2 linked regions of the Homo sapiens genome follow. The protein of the gene in region 1 purifies or fractionates together with the protein of each later gene. This does not show direct contact. Each region holds a gene or a part of one and is shown on either strand. Other genes may lie near its edges.

Region 1 (2,540 bases):
GGGGGATGCACATCATCAAGAAATAACCATAAAAATGGGCAACCAGCAGCCCTCTGGGCTGCTCTGTCTGTGGAGTAGCCATTCTTCTATTCCTTTACTTTCCTAATAAACTTGCTTTCACTTTATTCTATGGACCTGCCCTGAATTCTTTCTTGCGTGAGATCCAAGAACCCTCTCTTGGGGTCTAGATTCGGACCCCTTTTCCTATAACATCATTCTGGCGACCAGTGAAGGGACTATAGTGAGGAAACCCCCGACCCAAAGGCTAACTTTGGGTAAGTGGTGGGGTCCTGTAACAGTCAGTCATAGATTTCTACCTTAAAAACCAGGTTCAAATGTGAGCAAGCAAGGTATGATAGATAAGGAATTTTTACAGCTTCAAAGTGTGACCTACCCAAAAGATCTTGCCTGTTAAGTATGATGAACTGCCAAGTTATTCTCTCCTCCTCCCAAGAGAAAAATCATTGTTAAATAGGAACAGACTGACACACAACAACATGTAGAAATTAGAATACTTTATTATAAATATTTTCAGAATATAAACTGATTTTGTATCAAGACTCTTTGAAACTTTAGAAACTTTATGTAACCTAAGATTATAATATATTTCATTTTCCACTTTCCAGCCTAGAAAATACACTGCAAGTTAGATCTAATAAAGGAGAAAAAAATTGCTTCACAGAGAAAAACCAATGAACATAAAATACCCAACTCAAAACTATAACAAACCCAATCAAGAAACAGATTGTGCAAAGGTCATTAATCCTCCAATTTAAAATAAATAACCTCCCAACAGAAAATATTTCCACCATCAAAGCAATTTGATGAATAAAAGCAGAGTCACTTTCATTAAAGGAAATTACACTATATGTTCAAAAAATGTAATAATGCTTTTAGAAAATGAGGAAAAGCAATTTCTGTGTTGGAGAGCAAGCATGCTAAACACTTTGTTTACTAGGCCTTTGTTAGAAGTTAAAGAACCTATTCACATAAGAAAAGTGGTATGAACACGGATATCATAAAACCAAGCTCTCACCTATTTTTTCAATTTAACTTTGGGAGAACCAACTTTGAAAGCTTCAAAATCCAAGAATAGACTGGTCCCAAAGCATTTCCTCCTCTGTCCTTTCTTGGCCTTGTTCCTTTTTCTTTTTTGTACGCTTACGTTCCTCTTTCTTAGAGACTACATCTCGGCTTTTTTTCTCCTTTCGATTCTTAAGCTTTTCTGTACTGACATGTACGGTTTCTATTTCCACCTCTGTTTTCTTTCTTTGGATGCTCTTGTGTTTGTCTAAGTCAATTTCCTCGCAGCTTTTTTTTCTCTTATGCTTAGACCGCTCCTCCTCTGATTTTTCTCTGCCTTCCTCTGGGTGCCTTTTCCTCTTCTGATGTATCTGTTTGTGACTGGCTTGATGAGTACTGGTACTGTTATCTGAGGAGAAGTGCTTGTAAACTCTATGTTCTACACCATGTGAGCCACAAATATATTCTTGTTGATTAAAGTTCAGGGGTACTGGTTTTTCTGAGAAACAGTCCCTCGTGAACTGACAGTAGCTCAGAGAGTCTAGTCTCAATCTGCTGTCATGGGCTGGTAACCACTGAGGCAACCGATTTTCCACTGTTTGTGGAATATTGCATGATCTTGGGTAGGTCTGGATGGTTTCAGATGGGAGTCTCTGGTCAAACATTCTATACGTGGGTCTGGAATTAACCTCTCCTTTGTACCCACAGGTTTCCAAATAGTCCCCTTTCATCTTTCTGAAACAAGTCTTTGGCTCTAAGCCTCTGGCTTTCTGTACTTTAATATAATCTTCAAGTTCATCTTGAAAAGAGTCATATGTCTTCTTTGAATGCTTCATTAGGTTGACAAAACGGGATTTTCTGCAAAAAAGGGAGAAAATTCTTACCAGATCATCTTGTCCTGAGCATTTCCTTTGCTCTTTTTTTTTTTTTTTTTTTTCTTGAGATGGCGTCTCGCCCTGTCGCCCAGACTAGAGTGCAGTGGGGTTGCTCTTGGGTCACTGCAACCTCTGCCTCTTGGGTTCAAGTGATTCTCCTGCCTCAGCCTCCCGAGTAGCTGGGATTACAGGTGTGTGCCACCACGCCCAGCTAATTTTTGTATTTTTAGTAGAGATGGGGTATCACCATGTTGACCAGGCTGGTCTCAAACTCCTGGCCACAAGTGATCCATCCACCTCAGCCTCCCAAAGTGCCAGGATTACAGGCATGAGCCACTGCACCTGGCCTCCTTTGCTCTTAAAAAGAGCTTTGAAAAACAAAGCAGCTCAAACAAATTACAACCTATTTCAGCATAAAAGCTGAGTATCTTGACATTATATGCCAAAGGGTAGCATCAGGATGGTCAGATACCTCCCAGGTCACGTACCAGTAACTTTACCCTTCTCAGAAGTGAGACGAAGAGGGCAGAAAGGAACCGATACACATGTTGCTGTCATAGGGCTAAAATGTGAGATAAGCAGGGATGTGTGGATAGGAACCACACAACCACGGTGGGTGGCTGATATTAATGTTCAATTAAT
Region 2 (3,500 bases), on another chromosome or scaffold:
CTAAAAATACAAAAATTAGTCGGGTGTGGTGGCACGCACCTGTGATCCCAGCTACTCGAGAAGCTGAGGCAGGAGAATCAACTGAACCCGGGAGGCGGAGGTTGTAGTGAGCCGTGATCACGCCACTGCACTCCAGCCTGGGCGACAGAGTGAGACTCTGTCTCAAAAAAAAAAAAACAAAAAACAACAGTGGTCCTACTCTGGCCCAAAGGGGCACAGGAGGCTTGAGCCTCACATGTCCCCACCACCCGCTCCTTGGTGGCCCCTGGGGCCCTCCAGGGCTCTGTGGTAATCCACACACTCACATTACCCTCAGCTGAGTCTCACAGCCCTGCAAACCTAGTGTTCTGTTCTCCCACTTAAAGATGAACAGGCAGGACGCAGTGGCTCACCCCTCTAATCCCAGCACTTGGGAAGCTGAGGTTGTGGGATCACTTGAACACAGGAGTTCAAGACCAGCCTGGGCGACATGGCGAGACCCCCATCTCTACAAAATAAAAAAATTAGCTGGGTGTAGTGGCAAGTGCCTCCAAGCCCAGCTACTTAGGAGGCTGAAGTGGGAGAATCACTTGAGCCTAGGAGTTCAAGACTGCAGCAAGCTATGATTGCACCACTGCACTCCAGCCTGGGTGACAGAACGAGACCCTGTCTCAAAATAATAATAAGAACAGATGAACAAACCAAAGCCCAGAGATGTGACATCACTCGGCCAGCCCTGTTCCGTTTGATCCTAACTCCTGCTCCTGCCTGCAACAGTGGCTTCACCACCTTCCTTCCCTACCCTCAGAAGTCCTGCTCTTATTTCAGGCAAACATGAAACTTCTACCCCAAGCAAAACAGCTGCAGGAGTGAAGACCAGAGACGCACCACCAGGAACCCCAGACTCCCACAGGGTGGGGATACATAAGATGATGGGCAAGACACCCCAGGGCACAGACAGCTCCCCTCCCTGGCACCGCCCTCAACCTCCAGCTGTCCTGGCCCCATAGCCTCAATTACTCCAGAGCCCACCTGGATGGCGGCGGGAGGATCGCATGGGGCCAGAGGCCCGGAGGGCAGCGGCAGGCAGGTGTAATTTCATCGCGGGGCTCACAGTATGAGTCACCAGAAACAGAAGATGAAATTCCAGCTCTGAGGGCGGAGATGAGCAGCTCCCCCGGCTTGGGGTCAGCTCTTGATGTGGGGGGTGGGTAGTGATGGGGTGCAGGCCACAGGCCCCCCGCCAGCCAGATGGTGCCTTTGTGAAAATGAGAAAGAGGAACCACCTTCTTCTGGGGGGTCCCGAGCTGATGCAGGGCCGGCCAAGCCGGTTTGCTAGATTTCCCTAGAGAGGAGAGTGGCTAGAGGTATGTGGCATATCCACACCATGGAACACTACTCAGGGACCAGAAGGGACCAGCTACCCGTGTACCCAGCAATGCCGTAAATGCATTATGCTGTGTGAAGCCAGATTCAGAGGCTGTGGACTGTAGGATTCCATTTATGTGACATTGTACAAATGGAAAACCATATACAGAAGACAGATCAGTGGTTGCTGGGGTCAGGACAAGAGACAAGGATGAACAAACGGGCTTCAAAAACTTTTAGGGGTTACAGGATTGTTCTAACTCCTGGGGTCAAGCAATCCTCCTGCCTTAGCCTCCCAAGTAGCTGGGGCTACAGGCACACATCACCACACCCGGCTAATTTTTTTTTTAAGAGACGGGGTCTTGCTATGTTGCCCAGGCTGGTCTCAAATTCTTGGCCTCAAGTGATCCTCCCGCCGCAGCCTCCTGAGTAGCTGGGGCTACAGGCATGAGCCACCTCGCCTGGCTAATTTTTGTACTTCTTGTAGAGATGGAGGTTTCACTATGTTGTCTAGGCTAGTCTCAAACTCCTGGCCTCAAGCCATCCTCCCGCCTCAGCCTCCCAAAGCGCTGTTCTATGTCTTGACGGGGGTTGGACGACATAAGGGTGTGAGCCAGGCAAGTTCCTGGTATAGCATAGCCTTCACTCCTCAACGATATTTTTAATAAAATATAAAGTGGGGCCGGACACAGTGGCTCACGCCTGTAATCCCAGCACTCCGGGAAGTCAAGGTGGACAGATCACTTGAGATCAGGAGTTCAAAACCAGCCTGGCTAAGATGGCAAAACCCCATCTCTACTAAAAATACAAAAATTGGCTGGGCGAGGTGGCATGCACCCATAATCCCAGCTACTCAGGAGGCTGAGGCAAGAGAATTGCTTGAACCCGGGAGGCAGAGGTTGCAGCGAGCCGAGATCGCGCCACTGCACTCCAGCCTGGGTGACAGAGTGAGACTCCATCTTAAATAAATAAATAAAATAAAATATAAAGTGGGCCCTTCTCATGTGCCAGCCGGGGGCTGGGGACCAGGACCTAATGAGACTCCCTCAGGCCTGACGCCTCTGCAAGGTCCTCACTGGCTGGCGTAACAACAGATGGATAGACGAAAAGATACGGACTTGCTTTGATGGTGGTTCTGCCAGTAGCCAGAAAATGCACCTTGAGACCCTGCTAGACCCCAGCCAGCAAAGAGGCCTACCCTCGGCCAACCATCTAAGACACAAACAGCCTGGAGGGTCTCCCCTCTGTCACAGGGAACAGGAGGGGAAAGGGCTAAGCTGCCCCCTGCTTACCTACCCTCCCCAACCATGCAGCCTCTTCTGCATCCTCAAGTGCCCAGGACCGCAAGCCCTCAAGCCAGGCCCTCCCACCCTGTCTCCACCACAGACCTGCCCCCGGGGGTCCCACACACCCATGCTGTGGCATCCCCACGGGGTCACACCAAGTCCCTTGGACTACAGCACCACACTGGGACCCAGGCAGGTTGGGGAGAGCCATCTCCCTTTTACATCCAAGAAAACTGCCCAGGCGGGCGGAAGGTGGACGTGGACCCCATGACCCCGGCCCCTTACTTTCCCCCCATTTCCCCCACTCCAGAGGCTGCAGCTCAGGTGCTGGGAACCTGCCTCAGGTGGCAGCATGGCAAAGGTGCAGGAATTCCCAGCAGCCTCCGTGCTGTGGGGTCAGCCCCTCAAGTCCACAACCGCCCCCGTGGCGGGGTCTCCCAGCTTTGAAAGGTAGCCATTGCAGACACTTTCCCAGCACTCAGGCCTTGCCAATCCTACATGAAAATCTTACTTGGTGTATAATAGGGTGTTTCCAGCAATTTCCCACCCCCTCCTCCCAGCATCTCTAAATATACGGACCACATTGGCCAGAAATCCCTGAAGACAAGGACTTCCCAAACTGGGGATCCCTGGGCACCCCTCAGGCCACCTAGACTACACCCTCCATGCCACCCAGGCCAGTAGGAGATCTAGACCCTCGAGCCACAGGCTGGAGGAGGCCCGACCAAGGACATTAGAAGGATACTGCCTGTAATCCCAGCACTTTGGGAAGCTGAGGTGGGAGGATCGCTTGAGGCCAGGAGCTTGAGACCAGCCTGGGCAACATCGCAAGACCCCATCTCTAAAAAAAAAAAATTTTTTTTTAAT

The links. The genes of interacting proteins can lie anywhere in the genome.
Region 2: the proteins of KRCC1 (region 1) and GTF2IRD1 purify together in Homo sapiens (affinity purification with mass spectrometry; one large-scale study listed by BioGRID and IntAct). This does not show direct contact.

Annotation. Positions count from the first base shown.
Region 1 is NC_000002.12:88,026,705-88,029,244, forward strand, and holds the end of KRCC1 (lysine-rich coiled-coil protein 1), read right to left. Parts: intron 1,882-2,540; 5' UTR 1,860-1,881; coding exon 1,080-1,859; 3' UTR 501-1,079; downstream 1-500.
Region 2 is NC_000007.14:74,460,406-74,463,905, reverse strand, and holds part of GTF2IRD1 (general transcription factor II-I repeat domain-containing protein 1), read right to left. Parts: intron 1-3,500. UniProt on the Homo sapiens protein: May be a transcription regulator involved in cell-cycle progression and skeletal muscle differentiation. May repress GTF2I transcriptional functions, by preventing its nuclear residency, or by inhibiting its transcriptional activation.